Linked DNA regions of Homo sapiens: region 1 is linked to region 2. The links come from fine-mapping of genetic effects on gene expression. Tissue or cell type: sigmoid colon. Region 2 holds a variant in brackets; the other region holds the start of a gene. All regions are shown on one strand. Distances are between the middles of the regions.

What was found. PIP is the estimated chance that this variant, and not a neighbour inherited with it, causes the effect.
Region 1: RNF123 starts here. The variant in region 2 is fine-mapped to the expression of RNF123 in sigmoid colon (GTEx, PIP 0.97).

Annotation. Positions count from the first base shown.
Region 1 is chr3:49,686,313-49,694,403 of GRCh38, forward strand. It overlaps RNF123 (ring finger protein 123), which reads left to right and starts at 3,245. Exons shown (of 39, transcript NM_022064.5): 1 at 3,245-3,294; 2 at 4,818-4,935; 3 at 5,113-5,197. The coding sequence starts at 4,854. MST1 (macrophage stimulating 1) reads right to left here and starts at 3,162. Exons shown (of 18, transcript NM_020998.4): 1 at 2,286-3,162; 2 at 1,438-1,585; 3 at 1,244-1,356; 4 at 1,052-1,166; 5 at 837-973; 6 at 635-755; 7 at 372-490; 8 at 1-169. The coding sequence starts at 2,379. RefSeq lists enhancers at 1-285, 286-999, 2,516-3,075 and a silencer at 554-673.
Region 2 is chr3:50,594,960-50,603,060 of GRCh38, forward strand. It overlaps HEMK1 (HemK methyltransferase 1, mitochondrial release factors N(5)-glutamine), which reads left to right. Exons shown (of 11, transcript NM_016173.5): 11 at 1-1,207. Among named protein-coding and RNA genes, the nearest start is that of CISH, 13 kb to the right of the region's middle. RefSeq lists an enhancer at 4,088-7,768. The variant C/T (reference allele first, on the strand shown) is at 3,200.

The DNA of each region.
Region 1 (8,091 bases), 910 kb before region 2:
TTGCACGCGTATTTTTCTGGCGTAAATCGGTGCTGATGCGGGATTTGCGCGTCCCAACGCTGGCAAGGTACGCCCGCAGTGGTGGTATTGGCTGTGCCCCGGTAGCCCTCACCCTTCCCGCGGAAGCAGCTGACAGTTGTGGCCTCTTGGCGGGGCTGTGCCTCGGACCCTTAGATGGACCGAGATAGGTCGGGCCCCGAGCGAGAGCTGAGATCCCTCTGGGGCTGGGACCAAACCCGCCTTTCCCAGGTGTACGGTACTCCACGGGGTATGCTCTCAGGTCACGCCCAGCCCCTCTTACCTCCCCGGCCAAGCCACGCCCCTCCCCAAGGTTCCCAGGTACCCTCCCAGGCCTGGTCCCCGCCGCCTACCGCAGCGGGGGAGGTCACAGAACTCTCGCTCGATCTGCGGATCCGTAGTGTAGCACCATGGCCGCTCGGAGCCGTCAGGATTCCGGCAATAGTTGTCGTCCAGACCTTGGTCGAGGAACCTGGGGGCGGTAATGGGGCGTGAACAAGACCCTGGGACTCTGGCTTATCTGGCCCCGCCCAATTGCCCTACACGGAGCCCTGCCCCTGGAGTCCTGGACCTTCCCTAGCCCGGCCCCCAGGACGCCGATACCGCCTACGCGTACTTGCCCGGCTCGAAGGGGTGCTGGTGCGGGTGCTGAAGATCCCAGCGCTGGCACTCGCGCCCTGACTCCGTGCGGTCTACCGCGCCGCGGTATTCCTCGCCATTGCACCAGACACACGCGGCTGGAGACAAAGAGCCAGTGGGTTCGTGGATGGACGTGGGCTTGTCCCTCCACTCTCCCAGCTTGACCCGGCGCCGCTTACCCTCCCGGCAGGATTTGATGCCGCAGCTCTGGAAGCGCACAGCAGGGTCTGTTGTGTAGCACCAAGGACCTCCGGGGTCGCCATCAGGGTTACGGCAGAAGTTCTCTTCCAGGCCATTCCGGAGAGTGGGCGTGTACCTGAGGGCCCAGAGCATCACTATAGTGTGTGCTGGGGGAAGGCCCCAGGCCGGGACGGAGGGAAGGTGTTTGTCTCACTTGTGATCATTTGGGAACTTGTGGCTCCAAGCCTGGCAGGGCAGGCCACCCACGGTCGTGGCCATGGTGCCCCGGTACCCAACCCCATTGTTCATGATGCAGGTCCGTACGTAGTCTGGGAGCAAGAGACAGAAGATCAACTTGGGCTGAGGTCCCCTGTCTCCCACCCTGCCCCTCTCCACCCCCACTTGCCTTTCTTCTGGAAGAGGTCACAGCGCCCAGAACGCCGCAGCCTCGTGTGGGGCGAGTGTTGAGTCCATGGCAGCAGTTGGCAACCATGGCTGCTCACGTTGTAGTGGAAGGCCCTGGAGAGAAGAAGGCACAGGGTAACGCCACAGCCCAGGCTTCCCTGCCCCCAGTCTTATCTAGGCCCAGTGGCCACTCACCGGCAGTCCATTAAGGGCCCACAGCGACCAGCACACTCTTCAGCATCTGCCACATCCTCCTGCCAAGGCCCGGGCACCACCGCATGTAGCAGGTGCTGTAGCTCTGTGCCCCGGAGCACTTGGAAGTCATTCAATGGCGAGCGCTGCCCTGCAGAGTAGGCATGAGTGGGTGCAGGTCAGGTGGGCATACATGTCAGTAATGTGTATTGGCATGTCCACACTTTGTTCATTCAGGGGATCAAAGCTACAAGGCTTCTGGGATGGACCCTGTATGCACTTTCAAGGGCCAGTCTAGCCCCCTGCACAGATACTTGTGAAAAAAATTTCCCCTGGGAAGCAGGCCCAGACTTGGTAGTTATCACCGGTGCCTCTGTTTAGTGGCCCAGGCACCGGGCTCAGATCTAACACATACGCTCTGTGAGAGCAGTGGGTGATGAAGCTTGCCCCACCTCATCTCTCAAATGAGAATGCTAAGGCTCAGAGCCATCACATTACCCAGCCAGGGGCCCTGGCTAGGCATTCAGACTCCAAATCTGGGCTCTCACCTGCACAAAGGCATATGCTAGGTTAGAGGGGTAGATCAGGCTCAGGAGGGGTCACTGCCTGCTGTGTGCGTGCATCTGTGTGGTCCTGACACTGCTTCAGTGCTAGAGCAGACGTGCTAATAGAGGCCTAAGTGGGCAATGTCTATGTGTTCCTAGGGCTTCCCAGCTGTGCTCAAGAGGGCAAGGTCACTGCCCCATGCCCACTGAGCCTCTGGCTCCCCGACTTTTTTCTCATCCTAGAATAGGAGAATGGGGCCAACCCCCTCCTGAAGGCAGATGGGGATCAGGGTTGGGGGCACTTACCAGGGACCCCTAAGCATTGAGTCAGAAGCAGCAGGAGTGGGAGCCACCCCATCCTTCTGGCTGGAGGCTGCACTGTGACCCACCACAGCCCCATCCGGGAAGTTGTGAAACCTGTCCCTACGGGATTGGGTGGCTCTGGCTCCACACGTCAGCTCAGGGCCTGCTGGACCCTGACCTGAGACCTGGTGACAGGAGCCATGAGGGGCCAGGCCTCAGGTCCCATAGGTCAGTTGCAAGGGCCTAGTACAGCTTAGTGGACAGGTGTTAGGAAGGTTTGGTGGGGACACTTGAGGTGCCCTGGGGTTGGGGTGAAACCCCTCTGCAGCCTAGTCAGCCCAAGGGCATTGTGAAAGTGAGAGCTGCCAGAGGTCTGGGCTCCAGCCCCTGGGTGACATTAAACTTTTCTGAATTTCGGTTTTTCCCTGTAAATTGGGGAAAATTACTTGCCCCAGCTTCAACACTGCCTCCCCTCCACCCTTTTGCTGCTGCCTTATCAGGCCCCAGCTGTAGGCAGGTCAGCCCACACCCGGCGGCAGAGCCCAGAGAGGCTCGCTCATCTCAGCCGCCAGAAGTGTCATCCCAGGGAAGGTGAGCGAGGCTGTCCACTAGGACTAAATAGGGGTGGAGGTAACAGGTAGCAGGGACTCTGGCAGGAACGGCCTTTCAGACGTTTTAAGGACCGTCTGAGCGGGGCCTCTAAGTATGGGTAGGAGACAGGCGGCCTAGGGATTCCGGTTAGCATGTCGCGTTCTGCCGCAGCAGGGCTGGGAGCATCCCCAGAGCAGGCGGAGGTCGGAGGTGGTGAGGCCTTTCGGCGAAGCTGAGGCCTGGAACAACCCGGTGGGAAGCCATGGAGGGGGTCCCCTAGCGGAGGCTGGGCGCGGGCCAGTGCGCGTGCGCGGCTGGAGGCTCAGCGCGCAAGCGTGCGCGTGATTTGGCCCTGAACGGACGCCGTAGCCAAGAGGTTGGGCGGATGTTGTGAGCCGGGTCGCTGCGGCCGAGGCTCCGGGTGAGTGAGGGGCGGCAGGGCTCTGAGCCTGGCGGGTTCCGGCTATTCCCTTCGCGGTCCGGGCTAGTCCAGTGCGAGGGCACCTGCAGCGCAGGGATCTGGGTGCGAAACTCCGAGCGGAAGCTGGTCTGGCAGGTCCTGTGGAGCTTGGGGCCAGGCGGGGGCGACTTGGGGGAGCCATGCGCCGCCCTCGCCGTCCTTGGGCTCCCAGACGGAGTAGGTTCAGTTCTGAGTCCGGATACCCCGGCGGGGTTGGACGGGATAGCCGTGACAGGGAGTCCCCGGGCGGGGACAAGGTCCGCCTCTCACCTGGGTCCTCAGCAACTGACTCCCGGAGCCCACTCCGGGTGTCTGGAAGGTCTGCTCATCAAATGAATGACTGAGTTTAATCAGATCTTCAACTACTCTGGTAGTGAAGGGGCACCGATCATGGACGCCCACCGAGGGCCCGAGGTCGGGAAAATCACCTTCCCGAGGAGCAGGCGTGGTGCAGACCCACAAGGGTTTGTGGCGGGAGTAGAGGGTCTGTTTGGGGTGAGATAAGAGACTGAACTGCAGAGTAGGGAGTGCTGGCTAAGGCAGTGCTGCAGAGCGAAACTCTAGACCTGCGCTGTCTAATAGAACTTTATATGATGGTGGGAACGTTCTACCTTTGTGCTGTCCAACAGAGTAACCATTAGCCACATGTGGTCATTGAACTCTTGAAATGTGGCTAAGGCAACTGAGAAATCGAATTGTTAATTTTTAAAACTTTAAATTTAAGTAACCTCATGTGGATGACGGCTGCTGTGTTGGACAGCACCGCTACACATCAGTGAGGCCAGCACCAGGGACTCAGTGCAGGTTCTGGAGCAGCTGCAGCAGCAACATGATGTGAGGGATAGATGCACTAGGAGGACCAATGGAGTTTGCCATGAGGGCTGGGCAAGGGTGGTGCTTGGATGAGGTGGGAGGCCACATGTGTGAGTGGGAATGGTGAAACTATCAGGACCATGGATAAAAGAAGGGAGGAACCCAGGGCTGAGGAAAGAGGCTCCAGCCTTGTGGGGAGTAAGTGGGACTTATGGCTAGAGATGACCAGACCAGTGGTGGTCTGCACTTGGGGGAATGTGTAGGATTGTCGCTTCTGGTTGTGAGCTGGACTCAGTATGGCTTACAACTGAGATGGATACAGGGGCTCTGCCCCTAGGACACCTCACTTTGGACATTTTGGTCTGATTTCCACAGAGCTGAGACATTTTGTTATGGTTCGGCAAAAATATATCTAGTACCTGCTCTCTGCCCAGCCCTGTGCTGGGCACAGGGACACTGGAGAACAAGAAGTGGTCCCTGTTACATGGGCCTAGACCCTGGCTACCCTCCCTGTGTAGGAAGCTGGGAGCCCCTGCATTCCCCTGCCCTATGTGTTAGTGTGCATGCCCCTGGCCTCACCTGCTCCCAAGCCTTCCTGCCATGGCAGGACTGAGGTCAGGTGTGGGGGCCCCTGGCTGGCCCTGAGTAGACAGGCTCTGTGTCTGGCTCAGCCCCCAGGACCACTGGCTGCCCATGAGAGATGAAGGATGGCATCCAAGGGGGCCGGCATGTCTTTCTCCCGCAAGAGCTATAGGCTGACCTCAGATGCTGAGAAATCCAGGGTCACAGGTAAGAGCTGGCAGGGAAGGAAGGAGGCTCCTCTTGTTGGGAGGAGAAGGAAGGGACAAAGGCCTCAGGCCTTGCTGCACCTGTGGCTGGCCTAGGACCAGAAGTCTCTGGGGCCAGCAGGGGCCAGGAGCTGCACTGATCATGTGGCCCTTTTCTCCCTTCTGACTTGTGGCTCAGGCATTGTGCAGGAGAAGCTGCTGAATGACTACCTGAACCGCATCTTTTCCTCTTCTGAACATGCACCCCCAGCAGCCACCAGCAGGTATGGCTGGGTGGGTGGCCCCTCCTCACTCTGCTGGGCCAGACCAGAATAAGGAGGCTGCAGTTGTAGGGAAAGGGAGCCTGGGCTCTGGACAGATAGGCTTAGGCTCTGTTCTCACTGTGCTCCTGGCTGCGAGATCTCTGGCCAGAGAGTCTGCCTTCCGTACTCTGCTTCTTCCTGTCTCCAGGCAGTGCTAGTTCCTTCTGAGAGTCAGGGAGCAGAGGTCAGGGAGCGGGTGCACATTCATGCCCAGCTAGCACCTGGCACCTACTCCATACCCAGCATCTGCCCCTGCATGTACCTGCCCTCACCTTGGCCCCAGCCTGGCCCCTTGTAGCTTCTGACTGACCTTGTAAAGAACAAACTCCTCCAGGGCCTTTTCTTTACAAGTTTAATACTTTTAAGTGTAGTCAGTATAAAAGTTACAAGTACATTTTAGCAGAAACTTAGAGGGCCAGGCACAGTGGTTCACACCTGTAATCCCAGCACTTTGGGAGGCCAAGGTGGGTAGATTGCTTGAGTCCAGGAGTTCAAGACCAGCCTGAGCAACATGGCAAGACCCCATCTCTACAATAAAATACAGAAATTACCTGGGCATGGTGGTGTGCACCTGTAGTCCCAGCTGTTAGGGAGGCTGATGTGGGAGGATCACTTGAGCCTAGGAGGTTGAGGCTGCAGTGAGTTGGCCTCTGCATGCCACTGCACTGTAGCCTGGGTGACAGAGCAAGACCCTGTCTCTAAAAAAAGAAGGAAAAGCACCTGCTATCTTGTTATTTTAACATGACTATTCAAATGTGATTCTTTTCTGTTTCTTTCTTTGTGTTACATTTTTAATTTTTAATTTTTGTGGGTATGTAGTAGGTATATATATTTATAGGGTACATGAGATACTTTGATACAGGCATGCAATGCGTAATAATCACATCATGGTAAATGGGGTATCCATCCCCTCAAGCATTTATCTTTTGTCTTATAAACAATCTAGTTATACTCTTTTAGTTATTTTTAAATGTACAATTATTATTTACTATAGTCACTCTGTTCTGCTACCAGATAGGTCTCATTAATTCAATTTTTTTGTACGCATTAGCCATCCCCATCTCCCCACAAGCCCTATACTACCCTTCCAAGCCTCTGGTAACCATCCAGTACTTTGCCTCTATGAGTTCAATTGTTTTAATTTTTAGCTGTCACAAATAAGTGATAACATGCAATGTTTGTCTTTTTCTGCCTGGCTTATTTCATTTAACATAATGACCTCCAGTTCCATCCATGTTGTTGCATATTACAGGATCTCATTCTTTTTTATGGCCGAATAGTACTCCGTTGTGTATATGTACCATGTTTTCTTTATTTATTCATCTGTTGATGGACACTTAGATTGCTTCCAAATCTTGGCTATTGTGAACAGTGCTGCAACAAACATGGGAATGCAGATATCTCTTTGATATACTGATTTCCCTTCTTTCAGGTATATACCCAGCAGTGGGGTTGCTGGATCATATGGTAGCTCAATTTTTAGTTTAGTTTTTTTTTTTTTGAAAAATTTTTTTTTTTGAGACGGAGTCTTGCTCTGTTGCCCAGGCTGGAGTGCAGGGGCACAATCTCAGCTCACTGCAAGCTCCGCCTCCCAGGTTCATGCCATTCTTCTGCCTCAGCCTCCCAAGTAGCTGGGACTGCAGGTGCCCGCCACCATGCCCAGCTAATTTTTTGCATTTTTAGTAGAGACGGGGTTTCACCGTGTTAGCCAGGATGGTCTTGATCTCCTGAGCTCGTGATCCGCCCACCTCGGCCTCCCAAAGTGCTGGGATTACAGGCGTGAGCCAGTGTGCCTGGCCTTTTTTTTTTTTTTTTTTTTTTTTTTGAGATGGAGTTTTGCTCTTGTTGCCCAGCCTGGAGTGCAGTGGCATGATCTTGGCTCACTGCAACCTCTGCCTCCCAAGTTCTAGTAATTCTCCTGCCTCAGCCTCCCGAGTAGCTGGGATTACAGGCACAAACCACCACACCCAGTTAATTTTGGTATTTTTAGTAGAGATGGGGTTTCGCCATGTTGGCCAGGCTGGTCTCGAACTCCTAGCCTCAGGTGATCCTCCCACCTCGACGTCCCAAAGTGCTGAGATTACAGGCATGAGCCACCGCACCTGACCAATTTTTAGTTTTTTGAGGAACCTCCAAACTGTTCTCGATAGTGATTGCACTATTATAATTTACATTCCCACTAACAGCATACAGGGGTTCCACAACCTCGCCAGCATTTGTTATTGCCTGTCTTTTGGATAAAAGCCATTTTAGCTGGTGTGAGATGATATCTCGTAGTTTTGATTTGCATTTCTCTGATGACCAGTGACGTTGAATGCCTTTCCATATGCCTGTTTACCATTCGTATGTCTTCTTTTGAGAAATGTCTGTTCGTATCTTTTGCCCATCTTTTGATGGAATTATTAGTTTTTTTCCTATAGAGTTGTTTGCGTTCTTTGTATATTCTGGTTATTAATCCCTTGTCAGATGGGTAGTTTACAAATATTTTCTCCCATTTGTGGGCTGTCTCTTCACTTTGTTGATCGTTTACTTTGCTATGCAGAAGCTTTTTAACTTCATGTCTGTTTATCTTATAATGTATGTAGTTCAGATTATGCTGTATAGAAAACTTTAAAAAAATTTATCACCTTCAGTTCTTTTCTTAAAACGTTTTTATTGAGCTATGATTAATATACAATAAACTACACATACTTAAAGTGTACAATTTGATAAGTGTTAACATATATATAAAACCCGTGAAACCATCACTACCATCAAGGTAATGGACATGTCCCTCACTTCCAAAAGTCTATAGAAGTTTGCATCCTATTTTTATCATCAAATGTTATCCCGTGAGTATTTTTCCCCATTATCAA
Region 2 (8,101 bases):
CGTGATCTTGGCTTACTGCAACCTCTGCCTCCCAGGTTCAAACGATTCTCCTGCCTCAGGCTCCCGAGTACTGGGACTACAGGTGCGCACCACCACACCCAGCTATTTTGTATTTTTAGTAGAAACAGGGTTTCACCATGTTGGCCAGGATGGTCTCAATCTCTTGACCTCATGGTCTGCCCACCTCGGCCTCCCAAAGTGCTGGGATTACAGGAGTGAGCCACCGCGCCCGGCTTATCCGACTTTGAAGCAAACAAGTTAGTCTATCATAGTCTATCATATTCTCAAGGATCATGGCAGAAGGCACAGAACTCTGGGTTCAGAAACAGACAACAGATTATTGTTTACAGTAACGGCAGTAGACAGAGTAAAAGCATTTTCTTGCACCACTTCCCTGAACCGCAGTTCCTACAGAGTGATGTGATGATGGCCCGGTGATGCCTGCATATGCATTGGGTTGCACTACGGTGGAGAAACTGCATGCTGAATTTAGGGGACCCACGTCTTTTATAATAAGCTGCAAGCAAACCTGCCCAGGTGGGAGATGTTATCTTTAGTATACGGGACAATAAAATCTGCCTTTTGCTCTGGAGGGAGATACTACCTCTATCTTCTAAGGTTACTCACTATAATAATCACCCTTGTAAAGATTATTTAGAACAAGGGCAACCAGTGCCTCTACTGGCAAGTGTGCAGAAATAGGAGAGAACCATGGGGAATTGTCTCTCAATACCTTACTGGTGCTTCTTGGCATTACTTCCCAAATAATCTATTTGCATTTGGATGCTTGTCTCAGAGTGGTTTCTGCAGGAAAAAACCCAAGATAGAGAGACAACACTATATAGGCATCGATGTATTTCTGGGGTGACTCTCTTTCCTCCAGACCTCTCCTGCAAACAACGCAGGGGAGCCACGCAAAGGAAGAGGTTTCCACACCTGGGATTGATACTGCTGGGACTCCAGGGCAGGTGCTCTAAAGGACTCTTAGAATTTCATTTTTAATGTTTAATATTTGGTCCATCTAGAATTTATGGTGGAAGGTGTGAGGTAGACGTTGCACTTTTTTTTCCTTCCAAATTGCTCCAATATCACTTACTGGAAATTGTGCTTTGTCTGTTACCACTCTCTTCTAATCTGCCTGTGGCCTGTTCCTTAGAGTGTATCACAAACATACAAGTGATCAATTTCCAATAAATTGATTAAAGAATTCATGTGCATTCCCATTTTGTCAAACCACTGATTTGACACTCAGTGCTGATGCAGTGTGAGACAAACCCAAACACCCACTGTCATGATAGCACCGTTCAGGTTCTAGGGCAATGCATGGAGGTTGTGCTTTTGCTAACTGCAGAGCAAACACTACTTCAGCCTTCACAGAGAATTTAACTGTGAATAGTGAAGATTTCTTTTCTTCTCTCTGTTTCTTTTTGAGAAGAGTTTTGCTCTGTCACCCAGGCTGGAGTGTAGTGGCACAATCATGGCTCACTGCAGCCTCGAAATCCTGGGCTTAAGTGATCCTTTGGCCTCAGCCTCCCAAGTAGCTGAACTACAGACATGCACTGCCATGTGTGGCTAATTTTTAAAATATTTTTTGTAGAGAAAGGGTCTCACTATGTTGCCCAGATTGGTCTCAAACTCATGGACTCAAGCGATCCTCCCACTTTGGCCTCCCAAAGTGCTGGGATTACAAGTGTGAGCCACCACACTCTGCTAAGATTTCTTTTCATAAAAACATTTAGCAATATTTAATAACAATTTCAAAAAGTTAAGTAAAATTTTAGTTTTAAATCTTAATTTAAATTTTAATACAAGTATAACTTATAGTTTGTTTTGCCTCAATTTTACTAAGTGATTTTGATTATTTTAAAAATAACTTTTTAGGCTGGGTGTGGTGGCTAACGCCTGTAATCTCAGCACTTTGGGAGGCTGAAATGGGTGGATCGCTTGAGCTCAGGAGTTCAAGACCAGCCTGAGCAATGTGGTGAAACCCTATCTCTATAAAAAATACAAAAATTAGCCAGGTGTGCTGGTGGGTGCCTGTCGTCCCAGCTACTTGGGGAGGCCGAGGTGGGAGGATCCCTTGAGCCCAGGAGTTTGAGGTGTCACTGAGCTATGATCACACCACTGCGCTCTAGCCTGGGTGACACAGCAAGACCCCCCCGCCAAAAAAAATAATTAAAATTAAGGCCAGGCACAGTGGCTTACATCTGAAGTCCCAGCGCATTGAGAAGCTGAGGCAGGAGAATCCCTTGAGCCCAGGAGTTTGAGAGTAGCCTGGGAAACATGGCAAAACTCCATCTGTACAAAAAATACAAAAAAATTAGTGGAGTGTGGTGGCACACATCTGTAGTACCAGCTACTTGGGAGGCTAAGGTGGGAGGATCACTTAAGCCCAGGAGGTCAAGGCTACAGAGAGCCAAGATTACACCACTGCACTTCAGCCTGGGCAAAAGAGTGAGACCCTGTCTCAAAAAATAATAATAATAATTAAATTAATTTTAAAATAACAATAACTTTTTGGACTATATCATCTTTTGAAATTTTGACATATCTCATTTAATTTAACATATTTTTGTGTTCTTTGAATGTAATATTTTATTTCATTATTTAATTAATTAATTTATTTTTTTGAGATGGAGTTTCACTCTTGTCACCCAGGCTGGAGTGCAATGGTGTGGATCTCGGCTCACTGCAACCTCTGCCTCCTGGGTTCAAGAAATTCTCCTGCCTCAGCCTCCCAAGTAGCTGGGATTACAGGTGTGTGCCACCATGCCTGGCTAATTTTTGTATTTTTAGTAGAGATGAGGTTTCACCATGTTGGCCAGGCTGGTCTTGAACTCCTGACCTCAGGTGATCCACCTGCCTTGGCCTCCCAAAGTGCTGGGATTACAGGTGTGAGCCACCACACCTGGCCAATATTTTATTTTAGTCTTTTTAAAAATTATTATTTTTTTTATAGACAGGGTCTTGCTCTGTTGCCCAGTCTGGAGTACAGTAGTATAGTCATAGCTTACTGTAAACTTGAACTCCTGCCTCAAGCAATCCTGTCACTTTGGTTTCTCAAAGCTCTGGGATTACATGTGTGAGCCACCATGCCCAGCCTTATTTTAATCTTTTTAATCATTACTATGAAAAGAACAGTAATAGTGTAGAAGTCTTGACTGTAACAACATAATCAATCATTTTACTAGACTAAAGA[C/T]GAGGAGAATCAATGTTACAGAATAAATACAGAATATCTTAGGCATCAGGCAAGTCTTCATTCTCTCACTTAAACCTCAGGTCACTGAACACCTGGACATGAGTGATAATTACTAAGTTTCATCATTTTGGATATCTGCTGACTTTCAGATATATAAAAACTGTAGATTTACAGATGTTTTTACTCCTATGAAAGCTTATTTGTTCAGTAGGAGGATAGAACACATTTCATTAGCAGCTTGATTTATGGTTGTTTAATATTTAGATTCTGGTATGTGAGCCTCCACTTGTCCTTTTGCCTGGAGCACTGCAAACATCAAGGCCTATGCTCCAGTGTGCCCACAGGTACTTCTTGCTGCAATAGAGACCAGAGAAAGAGCTCTTCTGGGGCTCATGTCTCCATGGGCTCATGGTGAAGTGGGAGCTGGAGGGGTGAGTTGGGATCCAGGGGAAGACTCCGAGGAGAAACAAAAATCACCAAGTCTACACATTTCCTCCTTACAACGATTCCATAAGGCAAGTGATAACATTGTCCCCAAAGTAGAGGTGGAGGCCCGGTGCAGTGGCTCACGCCTGTAATCCCAGTGCTTTGGGAGGCCGAGGGAGGAGAATTGCTTGAGCCCAGGAGTTCAGACCAGCCTGGGCAACATGGTGAAACTAGATCTGTACAAAAAATTAGTGGGGTGTGGTGGCACACACCTGTAGTCTCAGCTACTTGGGAGACTGAGGTGGGAGGATCGCTTGAGCTCAGGAGGTAGAGGCTGCAGTGAGCCGAGATTGTGCCACTGGACTCCAGCCTGGGCAACAGGGTGAGACCCTGTCTCAAAACCAAACCAAACCAAACACCAAAAACAGAGTGGGAAACTGAGGCTCAGAGTGGGTTCATGACTTGCTCAAGTCACGATGCAGGATACCTAGCTCTAGAACCACCTGCAGCAGGGCACCGGTGTCCCCTGCAAACCCATAGCTCTTTTCACTCAGGTCACGTGGGTCCCAGGTCAACTTCATCCACAGCAGGTTCTTTCCAGCCACAGCCAGCCTGACCTGGGTGCAGGCATCAAGGCCTCTAAGTGACAGAGAATGCAGCACTCCCACCCACTGCCAGCTGCCCCAGGTAGCTTCTGAGAACTGGCCACTGCAGAGTACAAGCACAGCAATGACCTGTGTCCTTGGGCTGCCCCACTGCCCTCCTACAGGGGAGGGAGGACCTCTCTGCCATAGCCCCACCTCACAGCTGCCACCCACCCACTGGGTCCTAGCCCTTCTTAACGCCAGCATTGTCCCCATCTTCTCTGTGACATTGGGGTGGATGGGTAGCACGCTTGGCGCTGTGCTCAGTGAGGGCCAAGGAGTGACCTGAGGGTGGGAGGAGAGAGGCAAGTTCTTGCCGACACCCCGTCCAGCCTTGGCCAGGGGAGGTTCTCCATTCTGAAGGTAAAGGGGTCATGAGTGGTTAAAAGGTTGTCCTAGTGCCTCCCAGCTATGTGACCCTGACCTGCTCACTCAGCACCCTCAGCCATACTTCCAGGCCCCTGCTCTAACAATGCTGCTCCTGGGATCCTGTGATGGGAACACTCATGGCCATTCCCTTGAAATGTGGCCAGACTTCAACCCAGTCCCAGACAGTTGTCAGTGCCCACTCACTGCAGCCTCTCCTCTGCATTCTCCAGGCTATTTTCCAAAAGGCCAGATGCATGTCCTGGGTGGCTTGATGCTGAAGCTGGGGCCTGGGCCCCCTGCTGTGGGACAGGGAAGTGTGGGTGAGACAAGGCTGTCCTGAAGGAGTGACTAGAGCCAGAGGCTGCCCACCAGCAAAGGGGGCTCAGTGAGCAGGGCCTGGCACTGCTGACCCCACCTTGTTTTCCCTCCTACTCTCCCTTGGTGCTTCACACCCCCGGCTGCTCACTGGCCTAGGCAGGACACTCCTGTCTAACCTCCTGCTTTCACTGTGGACCCACACCCACACGCTGCCTCCATAGGTACACATGCCCTTTTTTTCTCTACTAACACCTGTTTCTCGTCGTCCACTCTGCCAGGCTGGACACCGGGCACTTCAGAGGTCATGCCAGATCCAGCACCGGGATGGAGGAGTCTAAGGAGGCACCTGCAGTCAGGGAGGGCTTCCTGGAGGCAGAGACCGAAGCTAAGGGCTCAGTACCCTCTCCCCCCACTTACCCCAGGTCACTGGCTGTCCTCTGAGCCTCACTCCCTGGAAGGGCCAGCAGGTTCCAGGAAGTGTCCCCTCGCCCTGCAGTGCTGGTTCCAAGAACTGCAGCTCTTGGCAGCATTTGCTTAGGATCCTTTCCTAGAACTTGAGACCTGCTCTGCCCAGACTGCTGGGGTCTCAGAGGGCAGCCAGTGGGGGTAGTGGGGGAAGGGGGTGCACTGGGAGGTGCCTCTGCAGGTAGAACATTCCATGGACCAAACATTGGGAGGTGGGCCTAGGCTGTCAGCCGGGAGTGGTTGGCCACACTAGGGTGGTCAACACCTCCAACAGGAGGTCGGTGAAATGCAGGTGCTTTGACTGCAGTCAACCATGGGGTGCGGGCCCATGAGTTCTCCCTGCACAAGAAGGAGGCTCATTCCCTTGGTCCAGAACTTCCACCAGCTTGCCACATGCCACCCTCCACCCCCCGACTCTACTCCCCCCACTAGCCTGGCACCAGGGTCCCATCCCATAGAGAATCAGCACAGGCCTTACCCTCAGAATAGGCCCTCATCAGATAACCTCCAGAGGACAGGCCAGGGTGCAGGACAGGCAGGTTCTGAGCAGGGAAGGGGGATGGGATCGTCTTGGGGCCCTTGGAAGGCCATGACACTTGTGTTATTAATCCTGTTATAATTTTACCTTTCCTGGTTAGAACTGAATAAATTACCCCACCTCACACCCCCCAGCAAAGTTGGGTCGGGTGAATGAGGGACAGGCCCTGGTAAGTGGTCAAGGACAGGGCCCTACTTCCCTCAAGGTCACCAGGCCTCCCCCTGGGGCGTGTCCTCCACCCGCCACTTCTGAGCTGGCACCAGGCCTGCCCAGCCGCCTGGGACCTGCCAGATCACGTTGAGCAACCAGTTCCTGAGAAGCGTTGAAGGCAGTGTGGTTTAAAATTAACTCCCCCGCTCCCCCTCCCGCCTGCGGCCTCCTCTGAGTTCTTGGAAGCGGCGCTCTGCTCTTCCTGGGAAGAGGCCTCCAGCCCCAGCTGCTGCAATTCTGGCGAAAACACCTCACCCAGGCTGGGGGTGGGGGGTGCCCACGCCAGGCCTTCTCTGCCCTACACAAGGCCCAGGGATCCTCTGGAAGCTAGCACCCACCCTAGTTACTCACTGAGACCCAGAAGAGAAAGGGGGTGATTGTCAAGGTGCTGGGAGGAGGTGCTCCTGCCCCCAAAGCCCACAGCTCCCAACCAGGCACCTCTGGGTAGGAGAGAAAGTGAATTGATCCCACAACAGCAAACCCAGGACCCTGGCCTACTTTGAGCCATATATGTCCTGGCGAGATGCAGCAACTTCCTAGGGCCACCCAGCTTTGCCTGCCCTTATAAGCTCAGCTTGCCCACTAGGTGCCAGGCTGATGGTGCTGATCTGGCAAGGATGCCCGGGAGCACGCCCCCGCAGGCATGCACACACCTGGGTTAACAGTGATCTCTGCCAGGATCTCTCCTTTTCTCTCACCCACACCCCTCAAACTGCCCTTGGAACACCTCTCCTCCTGGTTAAGCCTCATTTTCTCATGTCTCGTGGGCTCCGTGTCCCTGGGGCTTTGGGGGAAATGTTTCCTGAGAACCTACTCTCCCAGCAGCTCCTCCTCCCACAGCCATCCACTGGAAGGAGCTGAGAAAAACAAAGGAATGTTGGCCAAGTGGAAAGGTCAGCACAAGCATGCGTGCGCGCGTGCGCGCGCACACACACACACACACACACACACACACACACACACACACACACACACACACACACACAAGTGATGTCACTGATGTGGGGCTGGTGGGGGTGGGAGCAGTGAAGTGCTTCCTGGGAGGAGGCTGAGGGCTGAGAGGCACTTTGAAGAACAGAGCTTTGGCCCAGTCTGGACTATGAGTGCAATCCCCACCTCTGGTGGAGGAGCCCAGCTCTGGTGACAGGAAGGGCCCCATCTGGCTCATGGGTGCTGGGTGTGGGGAGAGTCCCTGGAGCAGGACTCTGCCTGAGGAGCATTTGCTGGATACCACCCTCCCCACCAGGCATGTCATCAGGGCATCATCGGTGCCAGCGCAAGCATCTCACTAGTAGGGTCTGTGTGGGTGAGACAGTCCTGGAGGGCTGCCTGGAGGAGTCATGGCAATCCTAGGTTCCCATAGCCCTCAGAGGCCCTGCCTGTTTTAATGAGGCCCGGGCCATGGAAGCAACTCTCTTTCCACTGAGCAGGAAGCTTTGACCACATCAGAAAAGCTCCCCTTCCCTGGGCCTGCTGTGTCTCCTCCTGCTCAGAGATGAGCATCGGTTTCCATTCACTCCCCATTCCCCAGCATCCAGGCCCAGCCACTCTCCAACCACTCTGAGGTCTGCATTCTGACCAAAATCAAACCTCCAGGGACCTCCTCTAGCTTGAGTCTCAGACGTGGGAACTCCAGCCTGCTGCCCCAGAGTGACTCTTGGAGTGACCCCTTGGGTGGTCCACGGGAGCCAGGGAGGGATAGGGAGGACACATCCACCATGAGAGGCTGTTGAATTTCCGGCAAAGCTCAAGTCTACTTTATCTTAAAACTGGTCTAGCAGGTTGGTGTCAAAGGCTGCCCAGGCTTGCACAGGGCCTACTTCTCCTGGAGGAAGAGGGCCTTTATGAGAGCTGGAGAAGTCTGGGATGTCCTATGCACAGACCCTGAGTCTTCCTGCCTTCGTAGTCAGGCCTCTAGGCCTTTAGGCCCCC